Linked DNA regions of Homo sapiens: regions 1, 3, 4, 5 and 6 are each reported to be linked to region 2. The links are microRNA targets in miRTarBase. Many come from high-throughput screens and were not tested one by one. Region 2 holds a microRNA gene; each other region holds the end of a gene's coding sequence.
The links. The annotated mature microRNA hsa-miR-6876-5p reads CAGGAAGGAGACAGGCAGUUCA and lies in region 2 at 2,275-2,296, opposite strand. An mRNA with a match to its seed (bases 2 to 7 or 8) in the 3' UTR can be bound and repressed. Matches are read on the target gene's strand: a 7mer-m8 pairs with bases 2 to 8, a 7mer-A1 pairs with bases 2 to 7 and ends in A, and an 8mer does both.

Region 1: miRTarBase lists DRG1 as a target of hsa-miR-6876-5p. The part of its 3' UTR that is shown has no 7-base or 8-base seed match.
Region 3: the mRNA of SEMA4G is a reported target of hsa-miR-6876-5p. Seed matches in the 3' UTR shown: 7mer-m8 at 1,875-1,881.
Region 4: miRTarBase lists TBC1D2B as a target of hsa-miR-6876-5p. Seed matches in the 3' UTR shown: 7mer-m8 at 1,144-1,150 and 7mer-m8 at 1,255-1,261.
Region 5: the mRNA of RAB5B is a reported target of hsa-miR-6876-5p. Seed matches in the 3' UTR shown: 7mer-m8 at 3,910-3,916, 7mer-m8 at 4,023-4,029, 7mer-m8 at 4,080-4,086, 7mer-A1 at 4,337-4,343 and 7mer-m8 at 4,356-4,362.
Region 6: miRTarBase lists BLOC1S2 as a target of hsa-miR-6876-5p. Seed matches in the 3' UTR shown: 7mer-A1 at 554-560 and 8mer at 1,103-1,110.

What each region holds. Positions count from the first base shown.
Region 1 is chr22:31,433,681-31,438,813 of GRCh38, reverse strand. It overlaps DRG1 (developmentally regulated GTP binding protein 1), which reads right to left. Exons shown (of 9, transcript NM_004147.4): 9 at 4,362-4,942. The coding sequence ends at 4,843. It also overlaps a transcript of EIF4ENIF1 not described here. Among named protein-coding and RNA genes, the nearest start is that of DRG1, 37 kb to the right of the region's middle.
Region 2 is chr8:25,342,416-25,347,702 of GRCh38, reverse strand. MIR6876 (microRNA 6876) reads right to left here and starts at 2,301; the gene lies at 2,229-2,301. DOCK5 (dedicator of cytokinesis 5) reads right to left here. Exons shown (of 52, transcript NM_024940.8): 25 at 5,196-5,287; 26 at 2,092-2,228. RefSeq lists enhancers at 2,016-2,310, 2,293-2,352.
Region 3 is chr10:100,983,576-100,986,711 of GRCh38, reverse strand. It overlaps SEMA4G (semaphorin 4G), which reads right to left. Exons shown (of 15, transcript NM_017893.4): 15 at 1,096-3,136. The coding sequence ends at 2,581. It overlaps MRPL43 (mitochondrial ribosomal protein L43), which reads left to right. Exons shown (of 3, transcript NM_032112.3): 3 at 1-443. Among named protein-coding and RNA genes, the nearest start is that of MRPL43, 2.4 kb to the left of the region's middle.
Region 4 is chr15:77,993,994-77,999,280 of GRCh38, reverse strand. It overlaps TBC1D2B (TBC1 domain family member 2B), which reads left to right. Exons shown (of 13, transcript NM_144572.2): 13 at 926-4,296. The coding sequence ends at 1,121. It overlaps LOC91450 (a long non-coding RNA gene), which reads left to right and starts at 5,056. Exons shown (of 1, transcript NR_026998.1): 1 at 5,056-5,287.
Region 5 is chr12:55,990,115-55,994,977 of GRCh38, forward strand. RAB5B (RAB5B, member RAS oncogene family) reads left to right here. Exons shown (of 6, transcript NM_002868.4): 4 at 568-690; 5 at 1,246-1,339; 6 at 1,983-4,863. The coding sequence ends at 2,098. Among named protein-coding and RNA genes, the nearest start is that of SUOX, 4.7 kb to the right of the region's middle.
Region 6 is chr10:100,270,740-100,275,801 of GRCh38, reverse strand. It overlaps BLOC1S2 (biogenesis of lysosomal organelles complex 1 subunit 2), which reads left to right. Exons shown (of 5, transcript NM_173809.5): 5 at 309-2,509. The coding sequence ends at 340. Among named protein-coding and RNA genes, the nearest start is that of CWF19L1, 5.6 kb to the right of the region's middle.

The DNA of each region.
Region 1 (5,133 bases), not on the chromosome of region 2:
GAGGCAGAGGTTGCAGTGAGCTGAGATCACGCCACTGCAGTCCAGCCTGGCGACAGAGTGAGACTCCATCTTAAAAAAAAAAAAAAGTTAATTGGACTCTATCTTGATTTAGGAGAAATCAACTATGGCCTTTTTCCTTGAGCTTTAAAGACCCCAACAGGTCAGTTTATACTGGACTGACCCTATAGATAGCATAGCCTTGTGGCTAATACCAGGATATCTATAGTGTAATTTCCAAGATTAAACTGACCTAGTGAAAACAGTTTATTGAGGAATCATCTATTACATATGGTAGTTTCTCTCAAACAAATCATGTTTACTGGGGCATCCTGTTTCTCTAAGCTCAGAGTTCTGAGCTTAGACCCACTGAAGTCTAAGAATTTCCCTTAAGACTCATGCATTAATTGACTCCTTGTGTTCTGTATCACATTCCTTAGCTCACAATTGTTTTATTATTCACCTTAACTATTAGTATATACATAGCACTTACGGATAAAGATTCTACAGAATACAGTACAGTTCTGAGTCCCCTTTCCTAACTGGAGGTTTTTCAGTCCTGCTATGAGGTGATACTTATTTCCCATGCTACTCAAGTTAATTTACCAGAGTTCTAGATATTTGTCCATTCAGGACCATTTTAGGACTCCATGCTAAAGGGTCAGATAATGAGGTAAAGGTCAAGGTGGTTGGATTTTTGACTACAAGGGTAGTAGAGTCTTGGGCAGCCTAAGTCTTGACCGTTTGTTAGGGAATAATGACTATAAGCCTGGAACTGCCCACCCTGCCGTGTACTTGCAGGAATACAAGAAAGCAGGTCACCTTTCAAGAAAACCTGGCTTTATGGATTATGCATGAAGTCAGTCTCTTCCTGGTACTTTTCTTTCAGCCTCATTAGTAATCCCCTTCCCCCATGCTATTCACTCCATGTGATTCCTCAGCTTCAGAAATAGACCCTCTGTTTAGAATTTTTGGCAAATGCTTTCTGGTTTCCACAGGTGGAAGCTGGAACGCAGTCCCAAGTGTCAATGGCAGAACACAGACACCTGAATCCAGTTCCACCTTTCCTGTGTATCCTCTTCCACTTATCTTACTTCCCCTTCATGTTGAACCAACGTTAATAGGTGCAAGGTAAGGAGGACTGGGTTGAAGCTGCTAGTAAAGGCTTCCTTTTCAGACTAGAAGCTAGTAGGACAGAAACAGGTACCATGCAAAGAGCAAAGCCATTAGCTGGTGATTGGCAAATGGCGCCAGAAGGAAATAAGGGAGTATTGCTAAGAGTATCAGCAGAAGCTAGACATACAGGTTTTAGCAAAAGTATTTTGGTAAACACAAGGACTAGAGGAAGCGGGAGGGTGGGGGGGGGATGAAGGCAAAAGACACATTAATGCAGTCTTCAAGGAGCTAAGACCTTGATATAGGATGAGGGCAGAGAGGAAGGGATGTCTTTGGAGAAACTTTTGATGTCTTGCAGGCACGAGATGAGTTCACAAGCAATCAGTGCTGGAAGGATGTGCAAAATAAAAGTTAAGAGAAGCTGAGGATATAGAAGGCATCCTGAAAGTAAAACAGCTGAGGACCACAAAGCATATCATGGAAAATCTGTTAAGCAGGGGAGGTCAGGTAGGAGAGGAAAGAATAGTCCCTCCCAAAGGAAGCAGTTAAATAAGTCTGTGGGAGGTCAGTGGTAAAAGGAAGTGGGAATGAAGTGAACAGAGAGTGCAGCTAGGCCTTCCCCTAGGAGATAGCTACTGAGTGTCTTTTAAGCCAGACTCTATTAACAGGGAAGGGAAGTGGGAGGTCCATTGGCCTTTGTGAACTATGAGCATAAACACAAACCAAGAATGACGATAACTTACAGGGTTAAATTCTGGTTCTTCAATAATTCTATTCCCTTTACCAACAATTGATTCAAAAATAGACATGTGACCCAATTTTAGGCCACGAGACAACAAACTGGGTGGCTTCTGGAAAACAGCTTCCCAAAAAGGTAAGACCAAGTTCCCTTCCATTTCAGCCGCTTAAGTTAGCACTTTCTGCTAAATGCAGCTAAACGTGTTCTAACTAGTTAAATGGCACAGAACAATGGATCTGTTTACTTGTAATAAAGTCAGGAAAGAAACATGGAATATGTAAAAGCACAGGAAATTCAAATCATGCTATGACAGCCAAACCAGTAAAGTCTTAGAGTTAATGAGGAGAAAGCCTTTAGCTGTACCTCCACAGTGGCCATACCCTAGGCAGCATTCCCAATACCAAACATACCCCTCTCCCAGAACTGCTAAGTCTAAGCCCAGAGGAGAAAGGGAAAGGTAGGGTAATTCTCTCCTCAAGGAGACCAGGGGTCCCTGGACCAAGCCATGGGGAGGGTGCTAAATGATGGACACAAAGCCTATTCACAGAACATCCTGAGGCCTTAGGATGAACTGGATTTCAGCAACCTTCTCTCCCCAACATTCTGGCAGTGCTAAATGCTTGCTCAATGAAAGTGAATTTTGGCAAGAAGAGTCCCCAGAAACCCAATATGTTCTGGCTGGAGAACAAACCTTCCTGGAAATCCCGTAGCTCAGAAAGCCAATGTTTCCCTGTTCCCCTGCAGGGTTGGGGCAGGCTCTAGACCACGGCCTCTATCATGAATGCACCAGTGGTATCAAGGCCGATATTCTGAAAAGTAACTAGCATACCAGGCTTCAGGAGCTTACCTTCCAGGTCTGGGGACAGTGACAAGCCCAAGCTCCAGGAAGACTATCAAAGGGAAACAACTGCTATTAGGGCAGCAGGAGAAACAAGCACTGGAGAGAGGCTGAGTATGTGAATAATCCCACACTGTGATCACTCATGACCTGCTAAAAGCTCTGGCTTGCCTCATTTGAAGAAATAATCAAATTCTGTCTTGCTGCAAACCTATTCTTCCTGATTTTCTCAGGGACTACTCCATCCATACTGAAATAATGTTTGACTTCTTCCCAAGAGCAAGTTAGTTAACAAGTTTAAGATTTCTCCCCCATACTTACATGTCCATACCCTCCCTTCTGCCCATATTCTTTAATTATTTAATTTTTATTTCTTGGAGACAGGGTCTCACTCTGTCACCCAGGCTGGAGTGCAGTGGCCCATCTTAGCTCACTGCAGCCTGGACCTCCCAGGCTCAAGCAGTCCTCACCTCAGCCTCCCGAACAGCTGGGACTGCAGGCATGCACCACCATGCCCACCTAATTTTTTAAATTTTTTTGTAGAGATTGGGCCTCGCTATGTTGTCCAGGCTGGTCTCGAACTCCTGAGCTCAGGCGATCTTCCTGCCTTGACCTCCCAAAGTGCTGGGATTACAGGTGTGAGCTACTGGGCCCAGCCCCCTCCGTCCATATTGTTACCCACCACACCAAGATTTTCATCAACCAGTTTCACATAATCAGAGCAATCCCCTTAAATTCCTATATTCCTAGTCCCCCAAATATCTGATTATGTCCTTAGCATCCTCTCAAGTAGTCCTGACACCAAGCCTCCTCCTAAACCGCCCACCTCCATATATACACATATGTGAACACACAAACCTGCTTTGATCACACCAGTTGCCTCACTTGCAATGCACCTTCGCCCAAGTTATTGGCTGAAGCCAGGACTTTCATGGGGATTCAAGCAGAAAGTCTGGGTTATGGGAAAGAAGGCATTTAGTTGGCCGGGCACGGTGGCTCACACCTGTAATCCCAGCACTCTGGGAGGCTGAGGCAGGCGGATCACCTGAGGTCAGGAATTCAAGACCAGCCTGACCAACATGGAGAAACCCCATCTCTACTAAAAATACAAAATTAGCGGGGCATGGTGGTACCTGCCTGTAATCCCAGCTAATCAGGAGGCTGACACAGGAGAATCGCTTGAACCCGGGAGGCGGAGGTTGCGGTGAGCCGAGATCATGCCATTGCACTCCAGCCTGGGCAGCAAGAGCGAAACTCCATCTCAAAAAAAAAAAAAGAAAAAGAAAAAGAAAAAAGCATTTTAGTGGCCCAGGTGGCAACATAGTTCAGCTCAACATTCAACCCAACACTGATGATGTACAGCTGTGCTCTGCATAGGGCAGACAGCCCAGTAAAAGGCTCGGTGCAACAAAAGCCAAGAGTCATTGAGTACTTACAAATTGCTTAGCACAGTATTTGACATATAAGTACCATCTCCCTCCATTACTAACAATCACCACCGCAGAAAGTAAGTGCTATTACTATCCCCATGTTACATGAGGAAACTGAGGCTCATAAAGGTTGGGTAATTTGTTCAGGGCTCCACAGCTAACTAGAGGTGGACCTGCAATTTCAAACCCTGATCTGCCTGGTCGGAGTACTTAATTACATGATCTCCCAAAATAGGTTAGCCTTGCGGGGAGTGATCAATTAACTTACATAAAGTCCTTCCTCTCTCCAGTATCATGTGGGAAAGACTACTTGAAAGGACTGAAAGCCATATCTAGTTTGGAAGGGGTTCCCATAAGTAAACATCAAGTAAGATGCAGCATGTCATATTTTTATCCATTTCACACTCAAGATGAAGTTCCCAAGGATCCCTTCTGTAGCTGCTTCACCGTATATACCCTTCCTCATTCAGCCCATCCCAAAACAAATTCTGACAATGACACATGAGCTGCATGTAGCTGACCAGCCTACCAGATCTTTTATGCAGTTCGACATACAAGGTGACACCAAGGTAAGACAAATGAAGTTCCAGTTTGGGTGCCTCCATCTCCCTCCCCTGGATCCTGATCCAGTGACTGCCAAAACCAGAAAGAACTGGGGTAGGGTGCTTGATCATGGGGAACGCTGTTGTGGTTCGTCCGGCAGATGGGAAAAGGGAAAGGTTTCACTTCTTCACAATTTGAATGACATCCTCATCCTCCAACGTATGGTCTTTACCCACTTTCTGAGGATTGTGTTTCACAGAGAGACCCCAGACCAGAGCACTGCATGGAAGGGAAAAAGAACAGTCAGTGTAAATAATAACCTAGCTTCTGCCCTATTTGCCTGGATGCCACCCTTCTGCTCAGATTTAGTATCATACCCTTAAGAACCATAGACCTACAAAAGCTTTATCTTCCCTAGCAGCATGAGACACTGAAGCCTTAACATAAAAGCCGGTAAAGACTTCTGGAAG
Region 2 (5,287 bases):
GTGTTTTACATTAACTTTGGATCATAAACATATGATTTCTAGAACACTGATCCCTGGCTAAACCAATGTGCCAGGTACATTGCTGCCAAATTTATAGGGCGTGGAGCTTTACTTTATTATTTTAAGGAATTATTGAATTATAAGAGTTACTTTTAAAAAAGTATTGAGTTTATGACGTGATTGGTCACATTTACGTATTTGGTGCAAAGTCCTTGGTTAGGAACCAAATCTCCAATCGCAACATGCTTTGAGAAAATGTATTCCATTTTATAATGTGGTTTCTATAAACATACTTAATGAAAAAAAGGGGGAATGATCTATAATGAATAAATATCAAGTAAGCAGTGCAAAGAGTAAGTGGGCTACAGGGGCTTAGGGAAGTGGAGGGACAGAGATTGGCGGAGCAGCTAGAGATGGCAATGGTACCCTCACATACTTCTGAGGCTGCAATGTGGATTCACAGAAATGTAGACATCCCAGTGCAAACCATGAGCAGGAGAAAAGGTGGGCTGTAGTCAAACGGTGGTGGACCCTGACAAGTGAACTAACGGTTTAGCTATGGGAAAAGGTGTAGTATTCATATCCTTTGGTAGGACAGAATCCCAAGATACTGGAAAGATAAAGACTTTAGGTGATGACAAAGAGTGGTTTTCCTGTTCTGTGGGAACACCTGTGCCATGAAACCACCATAGACGTGGTAACTATAATTTGTGGTAAGATGCTTTTTTTTTCTCAGCCCTCAACTGTTCGAGTGAACACATTCTGCAAAGTTCTCCAGCTTCCTGTGTGGGGGCTCTGCTAGGCCTGTGGGCTGCACTATTTCTAGGACATGGTGAATCCAGACAGGTTCAGCCCTATGTTTTCTTTTTTTTTTTTTTGGAGTTGGAGTCTCAATCTATTACCCAGGCTGGAGTGCAGTGGCACAATCTTGGCTCACTGCAACCTCCGCCTCCCAGGTTCAAGGGATTCTCCTGCCTCGGCCTCCCGAGTAGCTGGGACTATAGGCGCGTGCCACCACGCCCAGCTAATTTTGGTATTTTTAGTAGAGACAGGGTTTCACTGTGTTAGCCAGGATGGTCTCGATCTCCTGACCTCGTGATCCATCCACCTCGGCCTCCCAAAGTGCTGGGGTTACAGGCGTGAGCCACCACGCCCGGCCTTAGCCCTGTGTTTTCAAGAGGGATGGGGGCCAGGTCACAGAGAAAACGCAAGATGAGAAAACATAATTTCCATTAGGTTCCAGAGAAAGTATCAGTGTCCAAGAGGATATGGAAATGAGAACTTCTCAGCAGCTCAGAAATATCAGGTTGTTAGGCATCAGAGGATAAGAAGGAAGAGGTGTCTGCATAAAAACAGAAAGGCCTTTGATTCTTTATTTTTTATTATTATTATTATTTTTTAGAGAGACAAAGTCTTACTAAGTTGCCCAGGCTGGTCAGTCTTGAACTCCTGGACTCAAGTGATCCTCCTGACTTGGCCTCCCAAAGTGCTGGGATTACAGGCCTGAGCCACCATGCCCAGTCAGGTCTTTGATTCTTAAGAATAGTCACAGGGGCTGGGCGCGATGGCTCATGCCTGTAATCCCACCACTTTGGGAGGCCGAGATGGGTGGATCACGAGGTCAGGAGATCGAGACTATCCTGGCTAACACAGTGAAACCCCGTCTCTACTAAAAATACAAAAAAATTAGCCGGGCGTGGTGGCGGGCGCCTGTAGTCCCAGCTACTCGGGAGGCTGGGACAGGAGAATGGCGTGAACCCGGGAGGCGGAGCTTGCAGTGAGCCGAGATCGCGCCACTGCACTCCAGCCTGGGCGACAGAGCGAGACTCCCTCTCAAAAAAAAAAAGTCACAGGGATCTCAATAGTGCGCACACTGGGCAAGCCAGGAAAATCAGCCTGCAGAAGGCCCCAGCAGTAATCTGACTTTGCACTGGAGGCTCTGGCCTCCCTAATTATCTCTAAAATGGGCACAGCCTGCCCTAATACCGGAGCTGGAAACTACCTGAGAATAGGAAGGCCACGGAGTCACTCCTGTCTGGTGCAAAGGGGACAGTGTGAACTCTGTGCAGCATCAGTGATGACTCAACTCACCACATCCTTCCTGTCCAGCACCTCCAGGATGTTGCTCAGAAGCTGCGAGCTTGCCTCGTGGTCAGGCTTGTTGGAGTTGTCATCTAACTGGCCGCTGAGCTGGTCTGTCAGCAGTGGCAGCAGCACTTCTCTGCACTCTGAGAAGGAAAACACAGACAGCTCACACACAGCAGTGCCACCTCCTGAACTGCCTGTCTCCTTCCTGCAACTCTTCCTCGACCAGTACCAGTAGCTCTAAGCTCTGCAATCAGCCCTGCAGGGATGCAGCCCCTCCAGGCCACCCAGGAACACCTGGTTTTAGGCACGGAACTTTACCCTTGTTCAATGCGCAGATGAATGAATTAAAAAAAAAAAAAATGACCCTTCTCACAGGTGAAGGTGGGAACTTAGCAAAATGTTTAAATTATTTAACAATTTCTCTAGCTTTTCAAAACGCCAACCTAATGCACGAAATTGAGGGTCATATGAAACAAATAAAACCAAGCAAGTTATACATTTTTTTTTTCAAAAATTTTTTCACCTAATGGAGAAAATTTACTGAAAGAAGTTCCTATAAATAAAGTTCCTATAAATACTGAGCTTCCCTAGTACATGTCAATGACATTCTGCTCATGTCTGTGCAGGCGTGTGGATTTCAGAAAGTAAGGTATGACCTATTATGTCTTCTGAGATCTTTGCTATTGTAACACATTTTATAATGAGTTCAGGTACTCTGAATGCTACAGAAATGACTGTTAACCGTGATCACACTCTAAGTAGAACTATCCAGTGCATGCTTGCTCTTCTGCTCAAACACCTTATCTTTACTATCTCAATTACCTTTTCTGTATCCTTAAAAAGTGATCAAAGCATATTAAAATGTTTAGTAATAATTTGCTTTAGTAATAAATGTTTTCTACTTATGAGCATTCACTAACCTTTTGCAGGCATTACCTCTACCTCCAATTGTGTCTTAGGAACATTTGCAATTTCAAAGTGCAAATTCATAGGGTCAGAAAATATCAGAGCCCAAGGAGGCTACTGATACGATCTAGCTCAAGTCCTTCCTTCCACAGAACTGGAGGCTGAGACTTAGAGAAGGCCACTCATTTGTCCAGTTACATAACTAGCCAGGGGCAAAGCCAGGAAGGCTCTCCCACCAACAATCCACTCAACTTGTTTAACGTTGAGGAGTCCTGCTGGTCTTCAGATCTCCAGGCAATATACATACATAAAATGAGGTTACACTCTGGGAGCCCCTGACCAGGTAGTTAGCCCCAGAAGAAGTCTCCGTGGCTGCCTCACTCTAGCAAGTCTTGAGTTTATTGGGAAGGCCCAGGTGCTGGACCTCCTGTTTATATCAGCTTTGGGACAGAAACACTTGGTGGCTATTTGCTAGACTCTACTTACAAAATGAAAAGTATTTTATCAGTGTAAGAGTTTTTCCCCTCCATGCCCCACTCCTCTCCCAGCAGAATACTAGTAATCTGGCTTCTGCCAGCCTACCCCCTAAAGAAAACAGCTTGGCCAGGTGCAGTGGCTCATGCCTATAATCCCAGCACTCTGGGAGGCCAAGGTGGGTGGATCACCTGAGGTCAGGAGCTTGAGACAAGCTGGCCAACATGGTGAAACCCTGGCTTTACTAAGATTACAAAAAAAATTAGCTGGGCATGGTGGTGCACACCTGTAATCCCAGCTACTTGGGAGGCTGAGGCAGGAGAATTGCTTGAACCTGGGAGGTGGAGGTTGCAGTGAGCCAAGTTCATGCTGCTGCATTCCAGCCTGGGCGAAAGAGTGAGACTCCATCTCAAAACAAAACAAAACAAAAAAACGCTTGCTTTATCATGTTTGCCAGTTACCCTGGTGTAAAGACTTCCACCATGGTCAATTTCCAGCTACTAATGTGATATCACTGAACGTGGGGTTGAGAAGGGATGCATGTAACCAGCTCTCCTGTGGGATCCAACACATTGCTGTTTCCCTGTCCCCTGGTTTTTAAGGTCATGCAATAAGTATAGACTAAAGAAGAATAATTTCTTTTAAAAGGGTCATCTTTTCCTACTTGCTTGTTACTTCCTGAGGTTCCTGTTTTAAAGACAAAATTCTCTAATTAATGAACCACTTGCAGATTGTTCTAATTAAAGATTAAGGAACACATGATTTTGCTCTTTTAGGAACTGTTGGAAATACCGAGCTGACTTTAGATTCTCCTTAAAACCGCTCTCCCAGGAGGTCCTTACATACAACTGGCAACAATATTAATGTTGCCAACAAACAACTGGCAAGAATATTAATGACATTTTTAAAAAAGAAAAGTCAAGTGCTGACTGGGCACGGTAATTATGCCTGTAATCCCAGTACTTTGGGAGGCCAAGTTGGGCAGATCACTTGAGGTCAGGAGTTTGAGGCCAGCCTGGCCAACATTGTGAAACCCCCCCTCTCCCAAAAATACAAAAAAAAAAAAAAATTAGCTGGGTGTGGTGATGTACACCTGTAATCCCAGCTACTCAGGGGGCTGAGGCAGGAGAATCACTTGAACCTGGGAAGCAGAGGTTAGAGGGAGCAGAGACAGTGCCACAGAACTCCAGCCTAGGTGAGGGAGTGAGATTCCGTCTTAAAAAACAAACAAGCCGGACGCGGTGGCTCACGCCTGTAATCCCAACACTTTGGGAGGCCGAGGCGGGTGGATCACGAGGTCAGGAGATCAAGACCATCCTGGCTAACGTGGTGAAACCCCGTCTTTACTAAAAATAAAAATAAAAAAAAATTAGCTGGGCTTGGTGGCAGGTCCTTGTAGTCCCAGCTACTTGGGAGGCTGAGGCAGGAGAATTGCTTGAACCTGGGAGGCCGAGGTTGCAGTGAGCCGAGATTGCGCCACTGCACTCCAGCCTGGGTGACAGAATGAGACTCCGTCTCAAAAAAAAAAAAAAAAAAAAAAAAACAAGAAAAAACAAACAAACAACAAAACCCAAGTGTTAGCTGCAGAAATGGGGCTGTCATCTCAGCATGCAGCAGCTTGTTTTAGCTTTTTGAGATGGAGTCTTGTTCTGTCACCCAGGCTGGAGTGCAATGGTGCAATCTCAGCTCACTGCAACCTCATGCAGCAAGTTTTGAAGGAGACTTACCTGACTGTCGAAAAAGAGTGCTCTCTACTATCTTGGTCATGCAGTTAAGTTTCTGCCGAACCAGCTGGTTGTCAGGAATGCTTTGAATGAAT
Region 3 (3,136 bases), not on the chromosome of region 2:
CCCCAGGCTTTGGACTGTTACTCCGGTAAAGGTGGTTCTTCCCCTTTGGGATTCCAAGCCCAGGCAAATGGAACCCATCAATGGGCAAGTTGACAGAGGTTCTGCTTGGGATAATGAAGAGCTGCCTGTTTCTTTCCAGTGCCTGCTTCTGGGGGCAGTGACCTTGTGAACCACTCATTTTTATGCAAGTGGCATCCCTAAAACCTGAGATGAGGAAGACTTCAAGGGTTTTACAGGGCCCTTGTTTTTTAAATCCAAATTGATAATAATGATCTCAAAACACAGTGAGAGGTCTGAAGGCTGGCTTCTGAAGAATCCCTGATGTCTTATTGGAACAACCACTGAGCTACGGAGAGCTCTGCTGTGATGGGCTAGGCACTTTATATCTGTGTGAATACAGATTTATAAAACAGGTTAATAAACTTATCCAAGGTCACATTTCAGGTCTGTCTTCAAAATGTGTGCATATGTTAAGCACAAGCCTCAGTTTTCATTATTTTAAAACTAGACGCAGAACATATAACAACTGTCAGGTGGTTAGTATCAAAGGCCAAGTGATTAATCTAGGCCTGACCCCTGAAAGGGAGAGGGGAGTGATTCTCAGACCAAGTCCTGGCTGACAAGCTTTCTCTGGTCTTAGCTATACATCTCCTTCCCCCCACGTCCCTCTTTGTGCAGAAATAAAATCCATGTCCCTTGAGCCAGCTGGTGGGGGGTGCTGAGAACCTTGGGGAAGGGCAGGAAGGCTGATATTAATGAGTATTTTCTAATCTTAGTTTAAAAAGGGGGGATGGTGGGGAAATGAGAGGCAGGAAATGAAAATCTAGAAACCCCTGTAAGAATTCTTGAACTGTTGTCATTTTCTTGTCATGCCCTAACACCATGATCAATGAATAGTGTGAACCTTACTAAAGAGGCCTGTGTGCCTGCCAAGGAGTCAGGATGGAAGCGGAGGATCCCAATTTCCTCTGCAAATAGTTGTATTGGGGAGCAGAGCCAATCCTGGAGGCAGATATCACCTTCTGTATAGGCTCAGGAGCCTGTCCCCTGGTGATCAGGGGTGGGCGCATCTAGATGAAGCAGACTAGTCATAGCTGTGGGGAAAAAGGGTGTTTATTAACCAACGGCAGGGGGAGGAGCTGAGCCCAGGCTCCCCACTCTGTCACATGCCTGTTCCACCCACCTGGTTGTAAGTGGGGGCATTCCTAAAGAAGTGTAGCCATTCTCACAATAAATACATTCATTGTGGGGTGGAGGTGGGAGAGGTTGGGTGAAGGGCAGTAAAAACCCGTGGGATTCCACGTTCTCAGCTACAAAAATAACAGTCATCCTCACCCGAGGGGAATGGGGGAGCTCAGTCAGAATTGATTGTCCCATATAGGCCTAGAGACTTCAGAGGCCCCTGGCCCCTGAAAGTGCCCCGGTGAGGTAGGACAGGGGTAGGAGCTAAGCGTCCAAACTCCCAGCCTCTGCCCTTTGCATAGTTCCAAGAATGGGCTTCATGTGCCAGTTGAGACATCAGATTTCTCCTCCCTTTCCCTGCTGTAGTCTAGAGGAAGCAAATGCTTGATTCCCCCAAAAGAGAGGCTGGCTCATTGAGTGCAGTGTTGGTCATCCATCCTAGGCAAGGGCCTGTGAGGACAGTTAAATGGGAGGGGGATCTCCCTCTGAAATGTCCACGGACTAAACCCAACAGACAGGTCCAAGACAGCAAGGGAGGCTCAGAGGTGCATGTGAGTGGAAATGTAAGCACATGTGTGATACAGGTGTGTGTTACCACATGTGCATGGGGATGGGACATGCCTGGAGCTCTGTCTCTCATACTCTTGAGAATGACCAAGGAGAGTGGGGAGGCTGATTCACAAGGGCCACACAGGAAGGGAGAGGAGGGGAGTGATGCAGTCTTACCTCCCCAGGCTGGCCCGTTCCCAAGCTCTTGACAAAGAGGTCACCACATGGGGCTGGGGAAGAGGACCAGATAGGATGTGGCAATTGGGAGGGTACCCCAAGTCCAGAAGCAGGGATGAAACAAGAATGCACCAGGAGAAGGTGAGGGTGGGGGCACTGCAGCCCAGCCGATAAACATTCTTCCATGTGTGCATGTGAATGTACGCAGGGCTTAGGTGGCTGGCAGAGGTCTTGTCTGGTTTCAGGACCATCCAGCACACAGGGCCATGCAGAGGGTGGTGACATTGAGCCCATATGGACCTGCAGAGCCCTGCCTGGGAGAAAGAGAAAGGGTTTGGGCAGATGAATGGAACAGGAGGATGGAGTCCTCACCTATAAGTGTTTAGGTTAGGGGATAGGAACTGGCTCTGGGTCTGCAGGGCACCTGATCCTGAGGGAGCACCTACCTCTGAGGAGCACCGATGGGCCTGGGCTGCTCACATGTGGGTCTGTGGAGACTGAGGAGGGGGCTTTGGCTGGGCCTGACTGGCCAGCCCTACAGGGACATCAAAAAGTTGGGAGAAGGGTATGGAGTGGGGGTAATGAAGGGAGGGTGGCTGTGTTAGGGAGGCAGTGGCCCAGCCTGGGACAGATAGGCTGGCTTGGAAGAGCATTTGTTCTGGGAGGCTGGGCTCAGACAGAGCTCTCATCTAGCTGCTCCACGAGCTGCGTGTGCTTCCTTTTTTCCAGGATGCGGCTGAGTTCCTCGGCGAAGGAGCAGGGCCCTGCTGGTACTCCATTGTTGCTCTGCCTCAGAAGCACATAGCTATTGCCATTCATCCTCCGCAGCCGGCTGGGCAGTGCCACCAAGCCATTGGTCAGCTCAGCCGGTGGCGGTGGGGGCGGTGGGGGTGGTGGGGCTGGGGCTCCCTCCCCAGGGATGATCTGGAGACAGCTGCCCTCCAGGCCCCCAGCCCCCTCATCATCACCCTCATCTTCCTCTCCAGGACACTGGCCTGAGACTGTCTGCAGTTGCACCGCAGATCCTCCTGCCCGGCTGGCCCGACCCAGTGAGTATTTCCGTCGGCGCCCTCGTCTGCCTTCCCGCAGACAGGCCACATAGAGGAGGGAGGAGGCCAGGATGAGGCAGAGGCCACCAAGCGCGGCAATGGCTAGCACATAGAGCAGTCTCACATCAGGTGCCAGCTGTGCCCCAGGTGTGGCAGGGGCTTTTGGAGCTGGGGCAGGA
Region 4 (5,287 bases), not on the chromosome of region 2:
GACAGGCAGGAAGTCCTTCGGGGCATTTCTGTTTCATCACAGCTTTTCCTGGGGCTGGTGAGTCTGTTGGGCCTTTGGTTGACAGGGAAGCGCATGAGCCCATGTTGGTGGATACAAAGCATTTGGGGCCTGGCAGAATCCAGAGAGGGGAAGAAGGTGGCCCTAGGAACTGGCCTATTTTGTGATCCCCAGAGACCAGTGTGGCTGACCCATTAGTGCTACAAATCCATAGCCAGGCCTCAGGACAGCTTTTGGTCTTGTTTTTATTAAGCCACTGACCAGTGGTTAGGAGCAAGTGGATCATAACCTTAACATTTTTATTGAAAATTGGAGCCTTGACCTGGGGATGTGAAACCCACAAGCTGCACATTTCTCTGTAGACTGCATCTGGACACTTGTCACATTGCCAACTGGGTCTGACAGTCATCGCCAGGACTGCCTGGGCCTGTGTTCATTCCCAGTCAATGAGTCCTGGGACACAGACGTCCCGGACTCGTGCCCGGTGCCAGGCCTCATGCCCGCCCAAGGATGAAGACATACCTGCCATCACCATGCAAGTGCCGGGAGCTCTTCTCAGGGCTTATGTGTGGGAACACGAGTAATCCCACACCCTAGGAGGTGGCACTACTCTTACCCCAGTGTGCAGATGAAGATCAGAGGCCAGAAAAGGGGGGTGACTTCAGTCACACAGCAAGCATGTGGCAGAGCTGGAGTCCAGGTCGTCATTCTGAGCCTGCCCCTGGCTGGGCCATTGTGCTTTGTCACCTCTCTACAGAAGGTGGGCCTCATCCCCTACATCAGGCCCCAAGCCTGGCCAGCGCTCTTCCCACCCTGCCCCAGGCCACCTGCTATGCCTGTGAGGGCTGTGTGTGAGCACTCTCTGGAGCGCCGCTGATTCTCTTGTCTCTCCCCTGCGTCCTGCCAGGAAGCTGATCAGTATCTCCTTTGGGGACCTGAACCCTTTCCCCCTACGCCAGATCCGGAACCGACGCGCCTACCACTTGGAGAAAGTCCGGCTGGAGCTGACCGAGCTGGAGGCCATCCGTGAGGACTTCCTGCGTGAGCGGGACACCAGCCCTGACAAGGGTGAGCTGGTCAGTGACGAGGAGGAGGATACCTGAGTGGGCTCGGGATGCTGCTCTTCCTTCCTTCACAACCAAAGTGTGCCCAAAGGGTGAAAGTGCACTTAAAAGCCAGAATGTAACGTGTGTGTCCTCTGGGGATCTGCTGGGCAGATGTCCCAAGCCAGGCTGCCCTTCCTCATTTCCCACTGTGCGGGGGGCAGGGGTGGGAGGTCTAATCTGTTTACAACCATTTCCGTGCCATGCTTTTGGTTACACGTATCTCAGTCACGCTTTCTGCCTGGTTGGTGGATCCTCAGGCTTACCAGTGGCTATTTGCAAGAGCCTGTTTCCAGCCTCCGTCAGCCTGTCGGTGCTCTGACCCTCTGAAACCTTGCTTTGCTGGGCATCTCCCCATATTCTCTCTCCTGTACATAGTGGGCAGTGGTGTGTGGTTTTGAATGGCAGTGCTATAAAGGATGCCAGCTGTGCTTTAGGCACCTGTAGGCCAGAGGGTTGCTGCCTCAGGCATAAGGTTGGTATGAAAAGGGGCTGCCTTAGAAAAGCAGGCACATCCCTTGTTCAGAAATGGCCACTGTAGGAAAGCCTGTGAACCTCCCACCAGTGGCTTTAAGCTGCCAGCCATGCCCCATTTCTAGAATAGCCTTTGCTCTTCCACACGCAACCCTTCCATCAGTGTCTTCCAGCCTGCATGGGGAGGGCCTGGCTGCCCAGACACCCACCCTCACTTCTCATGGCCAGCCTGTGTTTGCAGATCACTGGGCTGCTCTGTCCCCAGCTTGCCCCGTGCCAGGCATGGCTCTGTGAGATTCTGTGGAATGCCCTTCTTGACTTGTGGAAATCATTCACCAAGTACGATGGGATGGGATTCCAAGTAAACAGTGGACCGTCATATTGCAAAGCAGGCCCACGCCTGGGCTGGCCTTGGTTGAGGGGATGGAGGAATGTTTTCGGGGGTGCTTTGCAGGGCAGTGGTGCAGCCGCAGCGTGAACGCTCTTGGACAGCTGAAAACCATGGCCTCCTTGGGGATGGCCAGTGCTCCTGGTGTCTCCACCTGCCTGGGTTGTGCAGGAGGCCGGCTGCCAGTGCCTGGGGCTGGGAAACTTTTTTGCTTGGGGCAGGCTTGGGTGAGCTCTCCCAGATGTGTGCCCACCCCACCACTGCCTGGAACATCCTTGTTCTCTGCCAGGATGCAGGGGCACTGTTGCCTCTGACACAGCAGTTTCTGGGAACTCAGAGGACTGCCTTTCTGAAGGCTGGGGAGAGGCTTTGAGCAAGGAGCTTGTTTTTGCTTAATCGCTCTAGACCATCCCTGATGCGTAGATGTGAGAGGATGTTTTCTGGCACAGTGTTATGAAAATACAAGATAAATGATCTCAGTGGAATGTTTCATATTACCCGAAAAAAACTGGAAATCATCCTTTGTTGTGAACACACTGAGACTAAGAATTGAAGCAATGCAGTTTTAAGAAGTATTTTTCCTATTTTTTGCTGTCAACTTTTTGGCAATGCCACGGCAAAGTTGGTGTTTCAGCACATGCTAGAGTGAGCTCCGGCTTCGTGTCTTTAACCAACTCCACTAATGTTTCACTGGGTAGACGGAGCTGGCCTCTATATTTAGCCAGAAGCCTTTGCCTCTTTTCAGGCATCAAAAATGGGTTTTGTCATTGTCTTTGTCTTTGAGAGCAGCAGTTTGAGGTCTGACTCCTTCAGTTGTCCTGTGAGCTGGGCGTTGCAGTCTGCTCGAATCAAGTGTTGGAACCCCCCCCACCCCTCAGCCCATCGTGAAACGACAGCTGTCAGCCTGGGGGGCGGCTGCTGAGGAGGTGCAGCAGGAATGGGGCTGGGCCCTGAGGTTTTACTTTCCGAGCCAATGGCCCCTGGAACATGCCAGCACACACTGCCATGTCCTGGGGCTAAGAGCTGCCTTTAGGGACAGGCTCGTGTTGTCCAGTTTGCCCTGAGAGATGCACCTGACCAGGGGCCCGTCGTGGCTGCAACCCACGGTGGTATGTTAGTGTTTCCAGGCAGTTGTCAGCAGCTGCCGGGCAGTGTGTGTGTGCGACAGCAGGAGAGTTCCTGGAGGAAAGGGACTGGGGACACTTTCTCAGAGGTTCTCCTGCCTGGAATCAAGTGATGCGTGTCCAGAAGGCAAGAGAGGGCGGCTCCGCCTGGTTAAAGTTTGGGAACGGGACGGAGCCAACTCCTCCTTCCAGGACTGTGGGCCCCACTCTTTTGCGCTAACACTTCCCCTCCCTCGGGTCACTGAGGAAAGAGCTGCTCTGTCCCCTCCAGTGCCCTGAAGGTCCCTGGCCTCCACTGGCTGCCATGGCAGGGGGCCCTTCTGACAGGGGCTGCCCCAAGCTGCTGTTCCTCCTCTGAACCTTCACCCCAACACCCAGCCCGTGGCCCCTGCAAGGGGGACCCTGCCAGCTGGGAAACCCAAAGGCCTGTCCAAACGTGCGCACCAGGACCGAGGGGAGCTCCCTCCCAACACCTGCTAGGAATTGCCAACTTTTAAATGGATGGGGTTTTTTATGGGTTGAACCTCTGTTAATACTTTTGTACACTCTCACTACAGTTTATATTTTTATAGGCTATTTTCTCAAGGTGTTTCTAGATTCCACATATCTATTTTATATAACAAGTTATTATGTTATGTGTGTGACTCCCTTGTGTGTATCTGTGCCAGCCTCAGCCTCCGAGTTGCTTTTCCCTCTGGCCCTGACTCTCACTGACTCACCGATGTGATGTGCAGGCCCACTTCTTACCCCAGATAGCCTCGGGCGCTGCCTGTAGTCATGCTGACAGCTGTACAGTAGCCGCCAAGACTGCTGACAGCTGGAGACGGTTCTGGTTTCAACTACGGTATATTGATATCGGAAGTATTCTAGACAGATCCTCGGTTGGGTTTTCTAGCTACATGTTTGTATTGCACAGATCCCCACCTGCCATCCTATAGTGTTGTCTTCCTGTGTGTTCCGGGGCTTCTGGGCAGCTGGGCCTGCCCGGGGAAGTCCTTGCAGGTGGGAGGCCATACAGAGACCCACTGTGTGCCACTGAACGTCCCACTGCTGCTGGGCAACTGGAGGACTGCAGGGGGCGCCAGGTGACTCTCTCCTTTTATATCACAGCAGCTCCTGTGCTGACCTTCAAGTTACGTTTTGGAACTGTAATACTAAAGGAAGAAATAAACTACTAATTTGTATAATATTCTGCATTGAAATTCAGTTATAGTCACTGGTGATGGGGCTCACCCCAAGGGCTTGGAGGGTGGGGCAGGGCTTATTGGTGTTGCGGGGGGCGAGGAGGGGCTCTCCAACCTTCCAGCCTGGCGTTTCTGGGTGTCTCTGCCCTTGGCTCACCCTGGGGCGGGTGCATCAGGATGCCTTTGCCAGCAGGGGCAGCCTTGGGAGGCCCCAAGAACCATGGCCAAGCTGCAGGTGTGGGCTGGGGGCACCGAGGTGGGAAAGCCGGAAGCTGGAGACTCCCTGTGTCCGGATAACCCCCCGCCCAGCCACAAAGAACAGGCATGCCTCCTTCCGCCAGCTGTGCCATGCCCTGCCTGAGTCACAGGCTTGTTTGTCTCCTGCCTGGGCTGACAGCTCAGGCCCAGCTGCCACTGGGCACACCCGCAGTCATCAGTGGAAAACACCCAAGAATGATAAAGACCAAAGGGGTTCCCATAGGGGTGTTTCGGGGTGGCTCCAGCAAGGATTCCCAGACAGGGCAGGCCAAGGCCTGGCAGGCTTTTCTCTTCTGCGGACATGGATTCAGCGAGGCTGGGGGTTCCTGGAGTCACGCAGCAGAGCGGCGGCGGCAGAGCTGGGGCAGAGCTGGGACAGGGACTGGCTCCGTGTGTGGGTCAGGAGCAAGTCGACAGGCCCTGCTCCCCACCCCTTGGAAGGGAGTGCCACCAGGGGCCGTTCTGACTAAGGCCTGGGAAGCCATGACTCAGAGCTTGGGTCCCTAGAGTCTCTTTGGGCCAGCCGGGCTGCTGCAGACAGACAGGAAGCACGCCTGACGCTCCTCTACCCTCGGGCAGCACAGCGGGGCTGGGACTCACTCTAGCTTGCCCAGCAACTTGCTTTCCTGTGTGAACTCTGGCAGGCTGCCCTCTCTGTGCAAAGCTGCCACTGGGGCCTGCTCAGGGTGGCCTGGAACTTGGAGGTGGGCAGTCAGGGCCTAGGATGGGCCTGTGTCA
Region 5 (4,863 bases), not on the chromosome of region 2:
GACTGTCCTTGTTGGCTGGACATGGTGGCTTACGCCTATAATCCCAACACTTTAGGATGCCAAGGCGGGAGGATCATGAGGTCAAGAGATTGAGACCATCCTGGCCAACATGGTGAAACCCCGTCTCTACTAAAATTACAAAAATTAGTTGGGCGTGGTGGTGCGCGCCTGTAGTCCCAGCTACTCGGGAGGCTGAGGCAGGAGAATCGCTTGAACCCAGGAGGCGGAGGTTGCAGTGAGCCGAGATCGAGCCACTGCACTCTAGCCTCGGCGACAGAGCAAAACTCCGCCTCAAAAAAAAAAGAAAAAAGACTGTCCTTGCTTATATTTAGAGGAGTTAGTTTGGGGCAGGGGGTAAGGGGGCAGAAAACGGGTTCTTGAAATAGCAAATAAGAGTACAAATTATGCTTCCAAGTGCTAAGAAGACAGATAATGAATTATCAGAGACCTGTGGTTTCACTGAGGGAAGACCACCTAGAAGAGGTGAATTTTGAGACTCATTTTAAAAGGTGATGGATATGGATTGGCAGTCATTCCAGCCTACTCATTCTCTTCATGTTTTCCTAGGAAACCTTTGCCCGAGCAAAGACATGGGTGAAGGAACTACAGCGACAGGCCAGTCCTAGCATCGTTATTGCCCTGGCAGGGAACAAAGCTGACCTGGCCAACAAACGTATGGTGGAGTATGAAGTAAGGTGGCCCGTGGAGTTCCTCTCTAACACTTCCTCTGTTCCTGGGACCTCTTTTTTTCCAAACCAGCCCTCTCTGAAAACGTCAACAGAGGACATTCATTGTCTCATTCCCCAGTTCTACACCAAGTTAAATACAGCAACACTGTGACCCTAATGACAGCCAGGAGATTTTCAAAGGAGTCAGGAGAAAACTCCAGAGCAGAGGGTTAGGGAGGTACCAGCTGTGGGGGTACCAGTGTGAAAACAGGAAGGAGGGAGCAATTAAATTTGTGGTAAGGGACTATTCAAGTGTCACAACCCAAAAGCCCCCAACTAACTTACCCTCTCCCCTATAATTAAGCTTTCTGACATTTGTGTGTTGGACTGAGTGGACATGGGGTCATCTTGAGGGAGTTGTCATTAAATTATGCATCTAGGCTAGCTGGCTCAAAGGGGTATTAATTAAGGGGAGGGAACCTAGGATTTTGCCTAGCTGTTGTGCTGCATGGGAGTGGAAAGGCAATACTCGTTCCCACCCTACATTCTGAGCACTAATACATCCCACTCCTTGCAGGAGGCCCAGGCATATGCAGATGACAACAGCTTATTGTTCATGGAGACTTCAGCCAAGACAGCTATGAACGTGAATGATCTCTTCCTGGCAATAGGTAAGGTCAGAACATCCTGAGGTCCTCCTTTTTCCCTCGTTTATAGGCAAAATTATAGCTAACCCAAATCAAGGATAGGTGCGAGTATCTCCTTTTGCAAAAACTTTAGGTATGGAAATACCTTAACTTTCTGTTATGACCTCCATCCTTGGCTGCAGCTTTAGCTCCCTTGTCTTCAATGTGTAAGTTTGCCGGCCAGGTGTGGTGGCTAACACCTGTAATCCCAGCATTTTGGGAGGCCGAGGCGGGCGGATCACGAGGTCAAGAGATCAAGACCATCCTGGCCAATGTGGTGAAACCCCGTCTCTACTAAAAATACAAAAATTAGCTGGGCGTGGTGGCGCACACCTGTAGTCCCAGCTACTTGGGAGGCTGAGCCAGGATAATCACTTGAACCCGGGAGGTGGAGGTTGCAGTGAGCCGAGATTGTGCCACTGCACTCCATCCTGGCAACAGAGCGAGACTCCATCTCAAAAAAAAAAAAAAAGTTTGCAAATAGTGAACCCTCCCATCTTCAGAACATTCTTTTAATCTCTCAAATTCTCCCTTTTCCCCAATTCAGTAGCCGTTTTTGGCGGGTGGAGGCAGAGGGGTAGGGAAGTAAAGTCTACCATACTTTGTTCTCTTCTCTTTTTATCTCTAGCTAAGAAGTTGCCAAAGAGTGAACCCCAGAATCTGGGAGGTGCAGCAGGCCGAAGCCGGGGTGTGGATCTCCATGAACAGTCCCAGCAGAACAAGAGCCAGTGTTGTAGCAACTGAGGGGGTGGCTAGCAGCAAACAAGTATGGAGCTAGCACAAGAGCTAAGAAATAACCTCCATCCCTACCCCTCAGCACACAACCCCTACGGTAACAGCACACTGAGCCCTGGCTCCCAAGGGCTGCCTCCTGACAGCTCCGTCATGGCACTTTTTAACGCTTCAGCAACAAACACCAGGCAGCTGTTGCCACTGGCCTCCTACCCCCTACTCTGGGGCTTGGGGGTCAACTCCCCCCAGGACTTACCTTCCAAAACAAACTTTCTTCACTTTGTATTATAGGTACAAGACAGCGACTTACGTATCTTTTCTCCTCCTCCCTAGTGTTCCTCCCCATTTTTTCAGAAAACACTTCTGACTCCTGTCCCTTCCCCTTCTGCTTTTGGTCAGTCCCTGTTCTTGAGCCTCTTTTCTCCTCTCCCCAGGATGCAGAAAGTGGTGAACCCAGGAACTGAGGAAGGAGGTTTCCAGTTCATTTACATTAAGGGCCCTGGGGGAGAATAAAGCTCAGAGCAGGAGGGAGTAAGGAAACATTTCCTTTTTGTTTTTATTTGGTTGGAGTTTCTCATATTTGAAAACATTGCGGTATCCATGATTTGGCCTTGTGGAGGGTGTTCCTAGGTAGAGGTGAGAATGGGGAGGCAAGATCTCAGGCACCAGGCAGGAGGTGCCTTGTAAGCTAACTGGGCGGAGGTGGAGGTGCAGTGTCAACTGTGGCTCTGTAACTCTTCAAAGGCCCAGTTTCCCCTCACGCAGCCTCTTAGGTAGCGTTTCCCCTAATCGTGGGGGTTGGACCCCAGAGTCTTCCAAAGAATTTTCACTGGTTGCCTGCATCTTTGGCTCTGCTGTGATCTGATTGGAGGAGGGACAGTTTCTGGTACCCATCCTCTGATTTATACATATGCATTTTTTCCCCTCTGGCCTTTAGATGGCCTCAGCCCCAGCCACCATATACCCCTGCAGTTTGCACTTTAATTGATGGTAGTTCAGTTGGGGTACTTGTTTTATGGAAGTTTTGATTGATTTACTTGCCCTCCCACCTTCTTTTTAATTCAATGAAATCTGAGGTTAATGCGAGGTTCGAGGAGAGGTTATAGATAAAACTACCAGTGGCAGCTACTCAAGTCCTATCTCCACTGTTAGCTTCCTCCAACTCTAATTATTAACCTATATTCTTGCCAAGCTAACTATTGACTATAGGTTTGCCTTTCCTGGAGAATTAATTGAGCAATTGAGGAGTGTCTCAGGATAGCACAGGCCAAGGTAGGGGAGTAAAAAGGAGGTCAGGCAAAAGGGAGGAGTTTTCTGTCCTTTCCCAGGTTTCACACTCAATTTGATATCCATTACCATGTCTTTTCTACTTCCTTGTAAATAGGTATGATCTTTATTCCCACTGTACAGTCTGTTCTATCCTCTGCCTCCCATCAGGCCCTGTTTCTTTGTTCCTTTGTTAATATCTTGAATTTAGTCCCTCCATCCTTAATCCCCCCATCCCTCCCCATCATGCAACCAGTGGTTTAATCCATGTACCAATAGGGGCTAGTACCACAGAGGCCTCCTGTGGTGCCCTCGTATCATACCACCTGTTCCTGTGGAGAGGGAATGACCGGCACTGAAGGTACCTTACAACTGGCTCATATTATCAGAGGACCTTGGTCCTTTCTAAATCTCTAGTCTCTCTTCATATCCTTCATCAGGTGTTTTAAGATGTCTCTGAGAAGCCATCAAGGCAAAAGAGAACTTTAAGTTCCTTGTTCCAGCCCGGAGTTTTGGGAAAGAAAGAAAGGAAAGGTCACAGTGACCTAGGATTGGAACCTTCCTGCCCTTTTGGCTTGCAGACTGCCTTCTATCCCAGAACAGCTGAGAAATCTATGAAGCTGAGATTCTGAAGGACCCAGCTTAGGTTCTTCCACTTAGGCCTCAATTCCCTTCCTTTTCCAGGGGCAGCCTTAGTTCCCATGGCCCTGAAACACACACATTTCCCCCTTCCTTTCCCAGAAGCCACTGGCCCCCCATAGCACCCAGTGCATCCTTTTTACAAGTGGAAGAACTAGGATGGCTTTCCAAAGTCTTCTAGAAATGAAGTTCTTTCTCTGTGCAGCTTTCCCCCTTGGAGCAGGAGTGAAGATGTTTCATTATCTTGGGCCTGGGAAACCACTTCCCCAGGCTTCTCCCTCCCCCCACCCCCATAGGAACAGGATTTGGCCTTAGCTTCTGGGCCTATCGGCTGCCTTCCCTCTACTTCCTACCACCTCTTCTGCCTTCCTTTGAGCTCTGTTGGGCTTGGGGATCTTAGTTTTCTTTTGTTTATTTCCCAGCTCATTTTTTTCTTCTGGTCAGTTTTTTTAAGGGGGGGTGTTGTGGTTTTTTGTTTTTGTTTTGCTTCTGAGAAAGCATTTGCCTTTCTTCCTCTCCCAACATAACAATCGTGGTAACAGAATGCGACTGCTGATTTACCGATGTATTTAATGTAAGTAAAAAAAGGAAAAAAAGAAAAGGGCATTGGAGTGTTGCTTTTTTTTATTTTATTGTTATTATTATTATTATTTTTGCTATTTGTCAGGTACTAGGAATTTGGAAGAAAGGATACCCAGTAATGTTCTACTGAATCAGAAACACACCTTTCCCTGCATCTTGATACATCTTTATTCCCTTTAATCTTTTCTTAAACATCTAGTTTAGAAAATAGCCCTTCTATTGCTATTTAATCACCCCTCTTCTAAGGCCACTAGATTGTTCATCAAATCAAACCCTATTATATCTTTTTA
Region 6 (5,062 bases), not on the chromosome of region 2:
GTAAGGCTCCCGATAGGTCAAGTGACAGATGTGCCCCATCCTGGTGGAGCTGTCTAAGTAGGTGCTGTTGACAGGGTGAGGACTTCGTGAACCTGTGTTAGGCTCTCAGTTCTGAGTGTCTGTGCTTGAATTCTTATTCCAAGTTTTACAGATCAGTGATCCGTATATTTGGACAGATGATGAGATTGAAGCTAATAGATTTTTAGTAATATTATACATATTTTTTAAACTTGACTGGAAATGCTAACTAAAAACTGTCTTTGTAAGAGCCAGTTTTAAAAGATGTAACTCTCCCTCATCCCTCACAGAAGCCAAGTACAAGAAGCTGGAGAAGCGATGAGAAACTTATTTCTATGGGACAGAGTCTTTTTTTTTTAATGTGGAAGAATGTCTTATAAAACCTGAATCCTGAGGCTGATGAATTGTGAAAATTCCTCAAAAGGAAATTATGCTGGTCATCACAGGAACATCTCAACGTTCGAGTAAACTGGAGGACTGTGGCTATTCCTGAACCTTCTTTGAGACAGAATCCCTCAGAATCTCACACTTATAACTTCCTACCTTTTACTTGAATGCTTTGCCATATTCAGGACAGAGACTCTCACAAAGTTCAGAAAACAGCTGGACTTACCAGTAAAATCAAATGAGAGGACCTATTTTCTCTGGTAGTGGTTGATTACTACATTATTTTCTTAAGTGGCTGGTTTTTTAGTTACTATGTAAATGGTCGTTTTTCTGTTAATGATGCTAATGTGTTGTAAACAAGATTCTAAATTTAAAAAGGAAAACAAAACAAACTTGTTCTTTGCAGCTTATCACCTTGTGAATGTCGGTAACTTACTTTTCCATAATATTGCAAATAACATAAAATCTTAAAATAATTCCAAGCTGAGTCTTCTAGATTGAGCAGAAATGGTGAAAGGAGTATTGATAACTTGGCGTATGTGATGGGCCCCTCTTGTTTATTTTCTATGTGAGTCACATTGACATGCGATCAGTTTGGGAAATGTGATGAAAACAAAGACTAGATGGGTATGTGTGTTTATGTGTTGGGTAGGGAGGTGACGATTGCCACTCATAAAATAAAGGATTTTATAAAATACCTTCCTACTGTGTATGTAGGATTTGGGGGGATCTTAGGGACCTAATCGACTTCTTTGCACACTAAAAACATCAGACAATGGGACATACTGACTGACCAGTCTAGGTTGAAAGATAGGCAGCCTTACCCAGAACACAACATTAGCAGCTGGGAAGGTGTCTGAGGTCCCCAATTACATATCCCAAAGAGTTTCTTACTTCTGTTTCTGTCATTTCCCCTCTGTTCCAGACAGTCATCATTTATCCTCTGTTCTTCCTGGACTGTTGCTGTGGTCTCTTCTCATCTTAACTGTCCCTTCCAACCACCCTCCACACTGCTGCCAGAGCAATCTTAAAAATGTAAACTGGCCCTATTACTCCTGCTTAGAACCCTGTAGTGACTTATCATGGCCTCTGAAAAATCTAGACTTTCATTATGCATACAAGTCCCTTGTGTTTTTTTGTTTGTTTATAGACAGGGTCTCTATTGTCACCCAGGCTGGAGTGTGGTGGTGTGATAATAGCTCACCTTGACCTCCTAGGCTCAACTGATCTTCCCACCTCAGCCTCCTGAATAGCTGGGACTACCAGCACGCTCCACCATGCCTTGCTAATTATTTTTTATACAGATGGAGTCTCACTATGTTGTCCAGGCTGGTCTTGAACTGGCCTCAAGTGATTCTCTTACCACAGCCTGCCAGAGTGCTGAGATTGTAGGCATGAACCACCGTGCCTAACATAAGGCCCCTATTTAAACATTTTTCTTAAATAAAAAACAAAAGAATTAAACTGTAACTCTACTATCTTAACATAGAATCAGTCTTACCCCTTCTTCCAACCCTTTTCCTTTTCCGTGCATGTATTGATCTATTTTTTTTTTTTTTTTGAGATGAAGTCTTGCTCTGTCGCCTGGGCTGGAGTGCAGTGGTGCGATCTTAGCTCACTGCAACCTCTGTTTCCTGGGTTCAAGCGATTCTCCTGCCTCAGCCTCCCGAGTAGTTGAGATTTACAGGTGCCCACCACCATGCCAGGCTAATTTTTGTATTTTTAGTAGAGACGGGGTTTCACCATGTTGGCCAGGCTGGTCTCGAACTCCTGACCCCAAATGATCCACCCACCTCGGCCTCCCAAAGTGCTGGGATTACAGGTGTGAGCCACCGCACCCAGCCATGTTGATCTATTTTTAAAAAGTTTTTATTTCCTGTTACACTGTGTTCAGCTATCTTCAGCCACCTTAAATTCCCATGGATGAGTTTTCATAAACTTTTTGAAAATAGATTTAGATTTACGGGAAAGTTGCAAAGATAATACAGAATTTAATGGATGAGTTTTTTTATTGATGTGTAATAGATGTATGTATTTTCAGAGTACAAGTGATAATTTAATACATGTATATAATGTGTAAATATTAAATCAAGAGTTATTGGGATGTCCTTCACCTTAATATTTATCTTGTCTTTATGCTAGGAACATTATTTGAATTATTCTCTTTTACCTATTTTGAAATGTACAATAGATTAACATTAGCTATAGTTACTCTACTGATCTATCATAGGTCTTATTTCTTCTGTATTTGTGTCCACTAATCAAACTCTTCATCCTCACGTCCCCACCACCTTTCCTGGCCTCTGGTAACCACCAATCTACCTCCATCTCCATGAGATCCACTTTTTTAGCTCCCACATGTGAGTGAGAACATGTAATATTTGTCTTTTCTGTGCTTGGCTTAGTTCAGTTAACACAATCACCTCCAGTTTCATCCATGTTGCTGAGAATGACAGAATTTCATTCCTTTTATGGCTGAACAATATTCCATTGTGTATATATACCACATTTTCTTTACCCATTCATCCATTGATGGACACTTAGGTTGATTCCATATTTTAGCTATTGTGAATAGTGCTGCAATAAACATGAGAGTGCATATATCTCTTTGATATATTGATTTCCTTTCTTTTGGATACATACCCAGTAGTGGAATTTGCTGGATCATATTGTAGTTCTATTTTTAGTTTTTGGAGGAAACTATACAATTTTCCATAGTGGCTGTACTAATTTACATTCCCACCAACTGTGTACAAGAGTTCCTCTTTCTCTGCATCCTTGCCAGCATCTGTTAATTCCTGTCGTCTTGATAGGAAATTTTAAGTGGGATGAGGTGATATCTTGTTGTGGCTTTGATTTGCATTTCTCTGATGATTGGTGATGTTGAGCATTTTTTCTTATAGCTGTTGGCCATTTGTATGTCTTGAGAAATGTCTATTTTGATCTTTTGCTCCCCCCGCTTTGTTTTTTTAAGAGATGAGTTCTCATTATGTTGCCCATGCTGGAATCAAACTGGGCTCAAACAGTCCTCCTGGGACTGGGCATAGTGGCTGAGGCCTGTAATCCCAGCACTTTGGGAGGCTGAGTAGGTGGACCATCTGAGGTCAGGAGTTCAAGGCCAGCCTGGCCAACATAGTGAAACCCTATCTCTACTAAAACTACAAAAAATTAGCCAGGCATGGTGGTGAGCACCTGTAATCCCAGCTACTTGGGAGGCTGAGGCAGGAGAATCACCTGGACCCCAGAGGTGGAAGTTGCAGTGAGCTGAGACTGTGCCACTGCACTCCAACCTGGGTGACAGAGTGAGACTCCATCTCCCCACCCCCTCCCCCTCCCCCAAAAAAACCCTCCTGCTTCAGCCTCCTGAGTAGCTGGGACTACAGGCAAGCACCACCACATATGGCTTTGCCCATTTTTAGACAGGATTTTTTGTGGGTTTTTTTCGCTATTGAGTTGTTTGAGCTCCTTGTTATATTTATTCTGGTTATTAATCTCTTGTCAGATGGATAGTTTGCAAATATTTTCTTCCATTCTGTGGGTTGCCTCTTCACTTTGTTGATTGTTTCCTTTGCTGTGCAGAGCTTTTTAGTTTGATATAATCCTATTAGTCTATTTTTGCTTTTGTTGCCTGTGCTTTTGAAGTCTTATACAAAAAATTTTTGCCCAGATCAATATCTTGGAACATTTCTCCAGTATTTTCTTCTGGTAGCTTCATAGTTTCATGTGTTAGGTTTAAGTCTTTATCCATTTTGATGCGATTTTTGTATATGGTGAGAGATAGAGTTGAGTTTCATTCTTCAGTATAGGGCTATCCAGTTCTCCAAGAATCATTTATTGAAGAGACTGTCCTTTCCTCATTGAATGTTCTTGGCACCTTTGTACTTTTGGTATTGACATAAAATGAGTTGGCTGTAAATGCATGGATTTATATATGTTCCATTGGTCTATGTGTCTATTTTTATGTCAGTACCATACTGATTGGGTTACCATAGCTTTGTAGTAGATTTTGAGGTTGGGCAGTATGATGCCTTCAGCTTTGTGCTTTTTGCTCAGGATTGCTTTGGCTCTTTGGGGTCTTTTGTGGTTCCATATAGATTTTAGGATTGTTTTTTCTATTTCTATTTCTGTAGAGCAGCAGTCCCTAATCTTTTTGGCACCAGGGACCGCTTTTATGGAAGACAATTTTTCCGTGGACGCGGGGGGATTTTTTTTTTTAATGGTATGAACCATATTTATTGAAAACATTATTTCTGGCCTTTCTCAAATTGAAGACTGCAAAAAATAAAAGCAGTGCTTTATTGAGTTGTCATTAACCTTGAGAGCAGTGGCGCTGCCTCTCCACGCTCTGGGGACGGTGGAAACCGTGGCTGGTGCGTGCCACATCTATCACACCTCGGTCTACAAAACAGTCCTGACGTCAAATAAAACTATTGTGGCCGGGCGCGGTGGCTCACGTCTGTAATCCCAGCACTTTGGGATGCCGAGGCGGGCGGATCACGAGGTCAAGGAAATCGAGACCATCCTGGCTAACACGGTGAAAACTCGTCTCTACTAAAAATACAAAAACAAAATTAGCCAGGCATGGTGGCGGGTGCCTGTAGTCCCAGCTACTCTGGAGGCTGAGGCAGGAGAATGGCGTGAACCCGGGAGGCGGAGC